2 separate regions of the Homo sapiens genome follow, and region 1 is linked to region 2. The links come from fine-mapping of genetic effects on gene expression. A gene starts in region 2. The other region holds a variant in brackets. All regions are shown on one strand. Distances are from middle to middle.

Region 1 (5,378 bases), 530 kb after region 2:
AGGGTACATCTATACTCTTAGTTATGCCTTCTTGTCACCTTGGGAAGTGCCTTTTTCTTAACTATTCCATTTGAAAACAGAGCTCAAAATTGTTGTTTGAAAGTTGTTCTTTTAGACTGATAGCAGTTTTGAGTTGAATTTTATAGATTTGCAAATCTACTTTTGTTTGTTCATTCAGAGGTGTTTGTGAATATTTTTGTGGCTACTATCCTAGCTTCAGGGGCTAAAATAACAAGACACACAGAAAGATCTAGCAGGGGATGCAGACCTCAAATAGAAAATTATGTTATCATGGGGTGAACACTTGGACAGGACACTCAGGGAGCTCTAGAGCACATAGCAAGGGCGCCTGGCTCAGGCTGGGCAGGGTCAAGGAAGGGCTTCCTGGAGGAGGTGATGTCCAGAAACCTGAAGGATCAATAGGAGTTAGTCAGAGGAAGAGCGGCAGGTGCAAGGGCATGAGAGTCAGAGTGGGGAGTATTTGGTGCATTTGCTGCAGGGAGAGAGGAAGCCACAGAGGGAAGGAAGCCAGTCCTGTCAGAGAGGCTGATGAAGTAGCCCGGAGAAGATGCTGGCCGGAGCTGGGATGTGGTAGAAGTGGATGAATTACAGAGAGATTTGGGAAGACAAATCTACAGAACTGAGGGATTGAGTGCCAGAGGTGCCAGGGAGTGTGCGTAGAGGGAAGGGGGTTAAGGATGACCCCCAAGTTTCTGGTTTAGGCAGTTGGGTAGGTAGGTGTTCATTCCACTCCCTGAAATAGCAAACAAGAGCAGGAGGAGGAGTTTGAAATGTCAGTTATCGGGGAACCTGCCCCGATATTCACATAGGTTCTTTTCTGTTTTTCCTAAGCATCAGCCGGCTTGAGAAATAAAGGGACAGAGTACAAAAGAGAGAAATTTTAAAGCTGGGCGTCCAGGGGAGACATCACACGTTGGTAGGATCTGTGATGGCCCCACAAGCCACAAAAAACAGCAAGTTTTTATTAGGGATTTTCAAAAGGGGAGGGAGTGTGTGAATAGGTGTGAGTAACAGACATCAAGTACTTAACTGGTTAATAGAATATCACAAGGCAAGTGGAGGCAGGTCGAGACCACAGGACTGAGGCGAAATTAAAATTGCTAATGAAGTTTCGGGCACCACTGTCATTGATAACATCTTATCAGGAGACAGGGTTTTGAGATCAACCGGTCTGACCAAAATTTATTAGGTGGGAATTTCCTCTTCCTAATAAGCCTGGGAGCGCTATGGGAGACTGAAGTCTATTTCATCTCCGCAGTTTCGACCATAAGAGACAGGCACACCTGGGGGGGCTGTTTATAAGCCTGTATCTCCAGGCGCGTATTCTCTTTCTCAGGGATGTTCCATGCTGAGAAAAAGAATTCAGCGATATTTCTCCCATTTGCTTTTGAAAGAAGAGAAATATGGCTCTGTTCCGCCCGGCTCACTGGTGGTCAGAGTTTAAGGTTATCTCTCTTATTCCCTGAACAATTGCTGTTATCCTGTTCTTTTTTCAGGGTGCCCAGATTTCGTATTTGTTCAAACACACATGCTGTACAATTTGTGCAGTTAACGCAATTATCCCATGGTCCTGAGGCAACATACATCTTCCTCAGCTGACAGGATTAAGAGATTAAAGTAAAGACAGGCATAGGAAAGCACAAGGGTATTGATTGGGGAAGTGATAAGTGTCCATGAAATCTTTACAATTTATGTTGAGAGATTGCAGTAAAGACAGGCATAAGAAATTACAAAAGTATTAATTTAGGGAACTAATAAATGTCCATAAAATCTTCACAATCCACGTTCTTCTGTCATGGCTTTAGCCGGTCCCTCCGTTTGGGGTCCCTGACTTCCCCCAACAGTCAGTGCGGCGTCAGAACAGAGATATCCAGTAGGCATGAGAGGCTGCACAGTGGCTCTCAGCTGAAAAAAGAGTGTGGGAATCCTCCCTGAAAGGATGGTTGGCAGAGACAGGAAAGTGGGTGAGGTCCCCCAGGAGGAGTGTGTGGAGAAGAGAAGCATGTCTAGAACAAGCCCAGCAGAACATCACCTTTTACAGGAGCCAGGAGACACTGGGTCACTCACTCAGATATTGATTGTCTGTGATGAGTACACACTCTGCCAAGCATTGTAAGAACTGCTTCGTGGAACTAGGCTGATACAGTCCCCATCCTCATGAAACTTTCACTCTAGTAATTTTCCATGAACCAGAGGAAATGAACTTCCCAGCGTCAGATGCTTTCGTGAGGCCAGGTAGGGTAAGAATGGAGAGTTGTCCAGGGACATATCCACAGGGAAATCGCTGGGGACCTGGTCGGTGAGGGCGAGTGGGGACCAAAGCCAGATTGCAGCAGGTAAGGAGGAGAGAAGAAAATGGTGGAGGCTTCTTTGGCCATTTGCCCTTTTACTGTACATCAGTGAATGTACATTTTGAGAATTCAACCTTCGCCTAAACCCCCTCTAAGGCACTGGCTTTGGCCAGAAGAGGCAGAAACAGTGACTGTCGACTTCCATGCTGCCATGAGTGAATGTTTCTTCCAGGTACTGAAGACTCAGCAGGTATTTCAGTTTTAGCCCATGAGAAGCTCAGAGGCTAAATTTTGTTGAGATTTTCTCCTCAGAGGAAATGCCAGGGTGTGTACAGAGTCACACATGCTCTTCAGCATCGTACGACAGGCCAGCCCCTGAGTCACATGATGCCCCATGTTGGTGGGTCTGTTTTTACTTTCTTCCAAAGTTCCTTGGGACTACCACTAGCAGGATTTTTTTCCTTCATTCATTTTGATTTCTTCAGGTTCAGTCAACAAGTGCTTGGTCCTGCTCTGACAGTAAACACTGCCAACAAGGACAGTTACAGCTAATGGCGTGGTTGCTGCTGAGGCCTAAATCATAAAACAAGGGCACACAGAGAGGAAAGCCACACGTATTTGACTTCCTGTATCTGTAACGGTTCCTGCAAAGCAGGACATTCACTT[A/G]CCTATCTTCCGTTCCGCTGTTGCACCTATAGGACTTAACACACTTTCCAGAAACCCAGGGCATGAACCACAGTTCACTGCCCTCCTCACCAAAAAGTGTTTAGTCCCTTTATTGGTATAGCTTCCTATGAAAAGAGAATAATAGAATTTGTTTGACCGAGAACTCATCTTTCTAGGACTCTGCTAGGATGCTTTTATCCTGTATCTAATATGAACACGTAGCCATCATTCCTTCAAACATCTCCCTAGGGGGTAGGCTTAGAGGAAGTCACAACTGGCACTGGTTGAGTACAAACTATATGCCAGACCGTTTTAAATTGTACATGAATTATGTCATGTAATCCTTAACAGTCACCAGATGAGATTGGTGCTGTCGTTACTTACTTTGAGTGGATGAAGTTGCTTAACTGACAGGTTTAGTAACTTCATCCAGGGTCCTACAGTTAGGAAGTGACAGCGCCAGGGTTTGAGCCTGGGATCAGCAGCCCCAGAGCGCACATTTCTAACCACTATGCCACACTGCCTTGTAAATGTTTGTGAGTTCATGTCTCTCCTTTCCTTTAAGGGCATATTATCAAAAAGTCATGTTAATCCCATTGTGAAAATGAGGAAAAAGTTAACTACATTGACAAAAACATTGTTTCAGAGTTAAATATGGTGCTGAAACAGTTGATTCTAAAACTTGATTTTTTTTCTAAAGTAGTGAAATAAATTATTTGTTTCCATACTATGTTAGCAAAACAATTTGTATTTCCTCTATTTGAAGAGCTTGAGCATTTTCGCTCATACTTTCAGATGTACATATTTGTAAAACTTTTACGTTTAATGCAGTCTTTATCACGTGTCTTACACTGTGCAAACATTAGAATTGTCTGCACAGTTGCCCTGAGGAAGAATTCAGTGCCCTAGCCTTCTTTTTGTGGTTGAGGTTTCTAATAACTCTTATTCCAGAAGACAGAGGCTGCATAAAGCTACCCCACCCACCCTTCTATATTAAAAATGCTCACTTGGGAAGGGGAAAAGGAAATAGCTTGAAGATGTGGAATGTCAAAGTCATAGAAATTGGTAAATGATGGAGAGTGTGCCTGCCTTGACAGTAGGGTAGAGATCAAAATGTACCTTCATTCATGCACAGTAAAAGGGCAAATGGCCAAAGAAACATCCACCATTTCCTTTTCTCCTCCTCACTTCATCACCTGCTGCAATCTGGCTCCCACCCACCGTCACCGACCACGTCCCCAGCGATTTCCCTGGGGATACATCACCCAGACTAGAGAGAGAGGAGGCATTTGAAATGTCAGGGTGGCGTCAGAACAGAGATATCCAATAGGCATGAGAGGGTGCACAGGGTGTCTTAGCTGAAAACAAAGGGCTTGGGAATCCTCCCTGGAAGGACGGTCAGCAGAGACAGGGAAGTGGGTGAGGTCACCCAGGAGGAGCGTGTCGAGAAGAGAAGCACGTCTAGAACGAACCCAGGGGAAAGTCGTCATTCACGGCTCGGTAGAGATCATGCCATGCCTTCTCTCTCTGATACAGCAGTGTTTTGTAGACTCTAGAAACGTTTGTTAAACTGTAATAGATGAAATGAAATGTATTAATAGAGCCAAACTGTTTTGTTTTTTTTCGAGACGGAGTCTCGCTCTGTCACCCAGGCTGGAGTGCAGTGGTGCAATCTCAGCTCACTGCAAGCTCCGCCTCCTGGGTTCATGCCATTCTCCTGCCTCAGCCTCCCTAGTAGCTGGGACTACAAGCGCCTGTCACTACGCTTGGCTAATTTTTTTGTATTTTTAGTAGAGACGGAGTTTCACCGTGTTAGCCAGGATGGTCTCGATCCCCTGACCTCGTGATCCACCCGCCTCGGCCTCCCAAAGTGCTGGGATTACAGGCATTAGCCACCGCGCCCGGCCAAGCCGAACTCTTAAAAACATTGTTTGTTTGTTTTTTTAACTTTTAAAAAAAGTCTTTGCTTTCCCTTTTCTGCCATCCTTTGGGTTTTCTTTCCATGATCAGTTAGGATTTTTGACTCTTCCAAAAAGCCTACCATTCATTGTGTTCACAAATCATAAATACTCCTTTTTATGATCAGACATCGGGGGGGAAAATGCTATCAAAACAGTCTACTAAATGCTATCAAAACAATCTACTGGTACCTCTGGTTTGAAATATTTGGGGAAGGCTAAAAACACTTACTACATTTTAGCCTTTTATAAATGAAATGATTTGCAAGAATATTATATTCATTGCTATTATATATAACTATATTCCTTTCCAAATGATCGTTATGGTACAAAGAACAATCTTTCTAGAGGGCTGGGCATGGTGGCTCACGCCTGTAATCCCAGCACTTTAGGGAGGCTGAGGCTACAGGATAGCCTGAGCTCGGGAGTTCAAGACCACCCT
Region 2 (5,378 bases):
TATTGCATGAGATAACTACACAGCTTTACTTTGAATTATGCCTTAATAAACTCAAATTCCTTGGAGTTCCCTTCTCTCTGTGTGCTGTGATTTGCACAGGCCATATATTTTGTTGGTCAGAAGTTCTACGGGGTGGGCCTCGATTTTTTCATCCCTAAGGAAATCCACTCTTGGTCCTATGGTCACCTACTGGGTGCCTCCTTCGGGTTTTGCTAACCTTCCTGGCCACAGTTGCTATACTGCCAATTGTCACACATAAGCCCACTCCATTTTGATAAATAATGTGTTGAATCTAATGGAACTCTTTAGAAACTGGTATTAAAAGAATCCCCAGCCCATTCTGATCTGCAGAACTAGTCTCTCCCACCAGTGCCTGGACTATTTTAACCCTATGCCCAGGACAGTTTCCTAGCATAGTCATCTCTAGAAAGAATATTTTCCTGAAGCAACAGATTTTTTGCTCCAGAATATTTCTTACTTTCCTTTTTCAGTTTGCTCTTTGTCAATCTGGATTAAAAAAAATCACTCTAAGCATATGAGAAATTGCAGCACTGGAAAAAAATACTGTCATTTCAATATCTTCTCATTTCCCCCCTCCCAATGTCTCCCTCTCTCTCAACACTCCCGAAGCCCATGATGTAAGTTAAATGTAGCTACATTTTTGTCCTTTCCACTTATTTATGTAATCATAACTAACATTTATTGTGTGCCTAAGTGTCAAGCATTGTAACAAAATATTTAATTAAAAAGTTATTCTTTACAACAACCCTACCATTATCATTATCCTTATTTGACAGAAGGAAAAAAAATCTGAAGTTTAAACTTTCCAAATTCAAGAAACATGTCCAAAGACATTGTTACAAACTGAATATTATATGTTCTCCCTGCTCCTCTCCCCACTCCCATATGCTAAAGCCCTAACTCCCAATGAGATGGAATGTGGAGGTGGGGCTTGGGAGGTTATTAGTTTTAGATTAGATCATAAAGGTGAGGCTCTCTTGAGGGATTAGTGGTCCTTCCTGAGACAGTCACCTGAAGGCAGAGTGAGAAGGCAGTCAACTGCAAGCCAGGAAGCAGGTCTGCATCAGGAACCAAATCTGTTCCCACCTTGATCTTGGACTTCCCAGCCTCCAGAACTGTGAGAAAATGTTGTTGAAGCCACCCAGTCCACGGTGTTTTGCAATAGCAGCCTGAGCTCAGACACAGAGCCAGGAAGTAACCGAGAGCCAAGACTCAAAATCTGCATCTATTCATACCCAAGCCCTTCACCACAGAAATACTCCGTTTATCATTTTTAATGGCTGCCTAACAGTTTGTTGGATTGAATTTTCATGATTTACGTAAGTATTTCTTAACTGATTTGGGTTACAGCCAGTTTCCATTTTGTAAGAGACTAGTGCTTAAAGCATCTTTGCATATATCTCTTTGTTCTTCTTTTGAACTATTTCCTTCGAATAGATTCCCAGGAGGGGTGTCTGATAAGGTACACAGCTCCTGTTACCTACTGGTGGCTGGCCAAATTTTATTGTTGCTGGAGAACTTCAGATCCCAGGGCAATTCATTAGGCTGCTTCTGACAGCAGCAATTACAGCCATGAAGTAGTTACCGCTAAAACCACCATCCTTTTTCAAGGGGTTATAGAGAGCTCGTCGGTAACTGTGACCTGTTTCTATCACCTGTGGTTCTCAGCAATACAATGCTTGGCACACAGTAGGCTCACAGCAAATGTCATCAGACTGACTAGAGACACCAGTGATTAGAAAGGCCATAGCTGGAAGTCAAGTTGGATGAGCTAACATTCCACAACGCCAACGCTTTTATTTAGTTACGTATTCTTTCAATATTGCATTTCGAAAACTTCAGGGGCTAAAAAGAGCTCAGAATGAGTTGGTACATTTTCATCAGTTGGGTATCTCTGAATGTCTTCAATGAACACATATAAAATTGGATTCAGAGTGGGTCAGTCTGGCAACCGCCCAGGAAGCCAATCCCCTGGGGCACTAAGTTACCCTGAAATAGAACTGAAATACAGGGGTAGCTGGCACAGGTCTCCCGAGGTGACTCCTTCCTGCTTGGTGAAATGTGCAGGTACCCAGATCCAAGAGAGGATCCAAAAGTATTTAGCAGAAACACACACACACACACACACAGAGAGAGAGAGAGACACACACACACAGGCTCGCCCTGGTCTCTGTCTCAGTCATTAACAATGGCTGTCACCTTAAAGAAGGAACAAATGATCAACCCAGTCTCCCTGGCTCTTAGACACATTTATGGGAAGTCAGCAGGGCAGGAAACACTCACAGGAACCCCAAGTCTGAACTGCCTGCTTCTCAGATGCTGGAAGGAAGCCCGCGGAACTACGAAGAGGGCTGCAATGCAAAATACTAGGGGCCTTCGCAGGGGCGCGCGGGCCGGGCTGCTACAGCCCAGGCCCCGGGCCTTCGCCTGGAGTCCCCGATAGGGGTCAGAGGCCCCCGAGCCCCACTTATGCCCCCACTCCCCGAGCCAAGAAAAAAAAAATTATGCGCACATTTAGGGGGATCATTTGTTCATTTCCTCGGATTCTCACAGGGGTCAGTCCCCACCCTGCCGCCACCAAGTTTACAATCCACTGTCCCAGATCCTCGGGCTGGGGGGGGGGAGGGGCGCGCCGAGGAGGGCTTAGTAGGAGGGCAGCGCCCGGCCTGGACCGGCCCTAGGCTCCCGGGTGCAGCCGGTGAAATGAAGCCGAAAGCCGTAGGCGGCGGCGGGGCCTGCGGGACCCGCGTCCTACCTGCCTCCCCCAGTCCCGGCCCGGTGCCGGGCCCGCCGCCGCCCGCTTGGCCCCGCACCGCCCGCCGAGGCGCAGTTCCGAGGGTCAGGCCCCGGAGCAACCAGAGGAGCCGCGCCATGACGCCCGCTCCGGCGCCGCTCCGCCCTCTGCCCTCTGCCCGTCTCTGCCCCTGCTCCCATCCCACCCCTCCCCCATTCTCTCCCGTCCGCCTGCGCTAGTCGGCCTCCCTCCCCACGCTCCGCCCACACCGCCAGTCCCCTCGTCTCCCTCCCCCTCTTCTCCCTCCCCTGCCCCTCCCTCCTTCCCTCCTTCCCACCTGCTCCTCCCACTATGTGCCCTGGGCCCTCCCAGGTCCCCGCCCCTCTTTCCTCCCACTCTGCCTCTCTCTCCCCCTCCCTCTTCCTCTCCTTTTCCCCTTGCCTTTCCTCCCCCTTCCTCTCCCCCTTCCTCTCTCCCTTCCCTTCCATGAGACCCTCCCCAACCCATCTCTGCATCTCCCAGCTCCTCCCACTCCTGCTCCTCCCTCGCCCTGCCCCCCTCCACCTATCCCAACTCCACTCATCCGCAGCCCAAACACTGATCTGTTTTAGTTTGCATTTTCTAGAGTCGTCCATAAATGGAATCATCCCATATGTACTTGATTTTGTCTGGCTTCTTTCACTCAACATAGTTACTTTGACATGCCTGCGTGTTTTTGCATGGAACAATCATTCATTGCTTCCTGAGCAGTATTCCATTTATGGATATACCACCGTGTGTTTAGTCAGCACTTGATTTAGCCTGCTTTCAATTTTTCCTGATTAGAACTACAGCTGCTAGGAACATCCCTGTGCAAATCTTTGTACAGACATATACGGTTTTTCCTCTCTGGGGTAAATACCTGGAAGTGGAATGCCCAGGTCGTAAGGTAGGTGTAACCATTTAAGAAACTACTATACTGTTTTCCCAAGTGGTTTTTTTCTTTACCTTCCCACTAGCAGTCTATGCGAGTTCCAGTTGTTCTTCATCCTTGCCAACACTTGAAAGTCCAGAGATTTTAACTGTAGATGTTCCGGTTCTGTGTAGTGGTAGCTCATTGTGGCTTTATTATGCATTCTCTAATCGTTAATGATGTTAAGCATCTTTTCATGTGCGTATTTGCAGCGAGTGTATTTTCCTTGGTGAAGTGTCCGTTCAGATCTTTTGCCCATTTAATGTTGAGTTGTTTCATTATTGAGCTTAGAACACTTTATATATTTTGGATGCAAATCTTTTATCAAACATATGCTTTACAAAGATTTTTTTTCCCAGTCTCTTGTTTGTCTTTTCTGTCTCCTAATATTGTCTTGGGAAGAGCAGTTTTTAATTTTGATGAAGCCCAATTTATCAATTTGTTAATGGATTGTTCTTTTTTTGGTATCATATTTAAGAAATCTTTGCCTAATCCAAGATCACAAAGATTCTCTCCTATGTTTTGTTCTAAAATTTTTATAGTTCTAGGTTTTACATTTAGGTCTCTGACCGATTTAGAATTTTTATATATGGCCAAAATTTTTGTTTTGTTTTGTTTATCTGTTTTGTTTTTTGCATATCTATATCCAGTTGTTCCAGCACCATTTTTATTGATTGATTGATTGATTGATTGAGACAGAGTCTCTGTCGGCCAGGCTGGAGTGCAGTGGCACGATCTTGGCTCACTGCAACTTCCATCTTCCAGGCTCAAGCAATTCTTCTGCCTCAGCCTCCTGAGTAGCTGGGATTACAGGCGTGTGCCACCACGTCTGGCTAATTTTTGTATTTTTAGTAGAGACGGGGTTTCACCATGTTGGCCAGTCTGGTCTTGAACTCCTGATCTCAGGTAATCTGCCTGCCTCGGCCTCCCAAAGTGCTGGGATTACAGGCGTGAGCCACCAGGCCTGGCTCCTAGCACCAATTTTTAAAAGACTACTCTTTCTCCACTGAACTGTTTTTGAATCTGTCAAAAATCAGTTTCCTATCAATGTGTTGTGTCTATTTCTGGACTTCCTATTTTGTCCCATTAATTAATTTGTCTATTTTTACATCAATATTACAATATCCTGATGACTGGACTTGCAACCAGCTAGCATTGGTACTGTACCTCTGTTCTTTTTTAAGGTTGTTTGGGCTATTTTAGGTCTTTTGTATTTCAACATAAATTTTAGATTCAGTCTGTCAATTTCTACACATGATCTTACTTAAGTTTTGATTGGGATTGCATTGATTCTATCCATAAGTTTGGGGGAAATTAATATCATAACAATATTGAATCTTTTGACCCATGAATAAAGATATGCCTATCTATTTATTTAGGTCTTCCTTAACACCTACTAGTAGTGTTTTGTAGTTTTCACTGTATAGGTTTTGCACATCTTTTGATAGATTCATCCTAAAGCATTTCATATTTTTGATGCTGTGGTATTGTTTTATCAATTTCAATTTCTGATTGCTAGTATGTAGATTTTGTATATTGATCTTGTATTCTGTAATCTTTCTAAACTCATTTCTTAGTTCTAGTAACATTTTATGGATTTTATCAGATTTTCTACATAGAAAAATCATGTCATCTGTGTAGAAAGAGTTTTACTCTTTCTTTTTAATACAG

The links. PIP is the estimated chance that this variant, and not a neighbour inherited with it, causes the effect.
Region 1: its variant is the best candidate, but not a certain one, in a credible set for the expression of MSRB2 in whole blood (TOPMed, PIP 0.65).

Annotation. Positions count from the first base shown.
Region 1 is chr10:22,561,774-22,567,151 of GRCh38, reverse strand. The region is part of intron 6 of PIP4K2A (phosphatidylinositol-5-phosphate 4-kinase type 2 alpha); the gene reads left to right. It also overlaps the pseudogene TRP-GGG1-1. Among named protein-coding and RNA genes, the nearest start is that of LINC03027, 130 kb to the right of the region's middle. The variant A/G (reference allele first, on the strand shown) is at 2,979.
Region 2 is chr10:23,093,125-23,098,502 of GRCh38, reverse strand. MSRB2 (methionine sulfoxide reductase B2) reads right to left here and starts at 2,924. Exons shown (of 5, transcript NM_012228.4): 1 at 2,777-2,924. The coding sequence starts at 2,894. LOC107984215 (a long non-coding RNA gene) reads left to right here and starts at 3,224. Exons shown (of 3, transcript XR_001747394.2): 1 at 3,224-3,683. RefSeq lists a silencer at 2,647-3,116.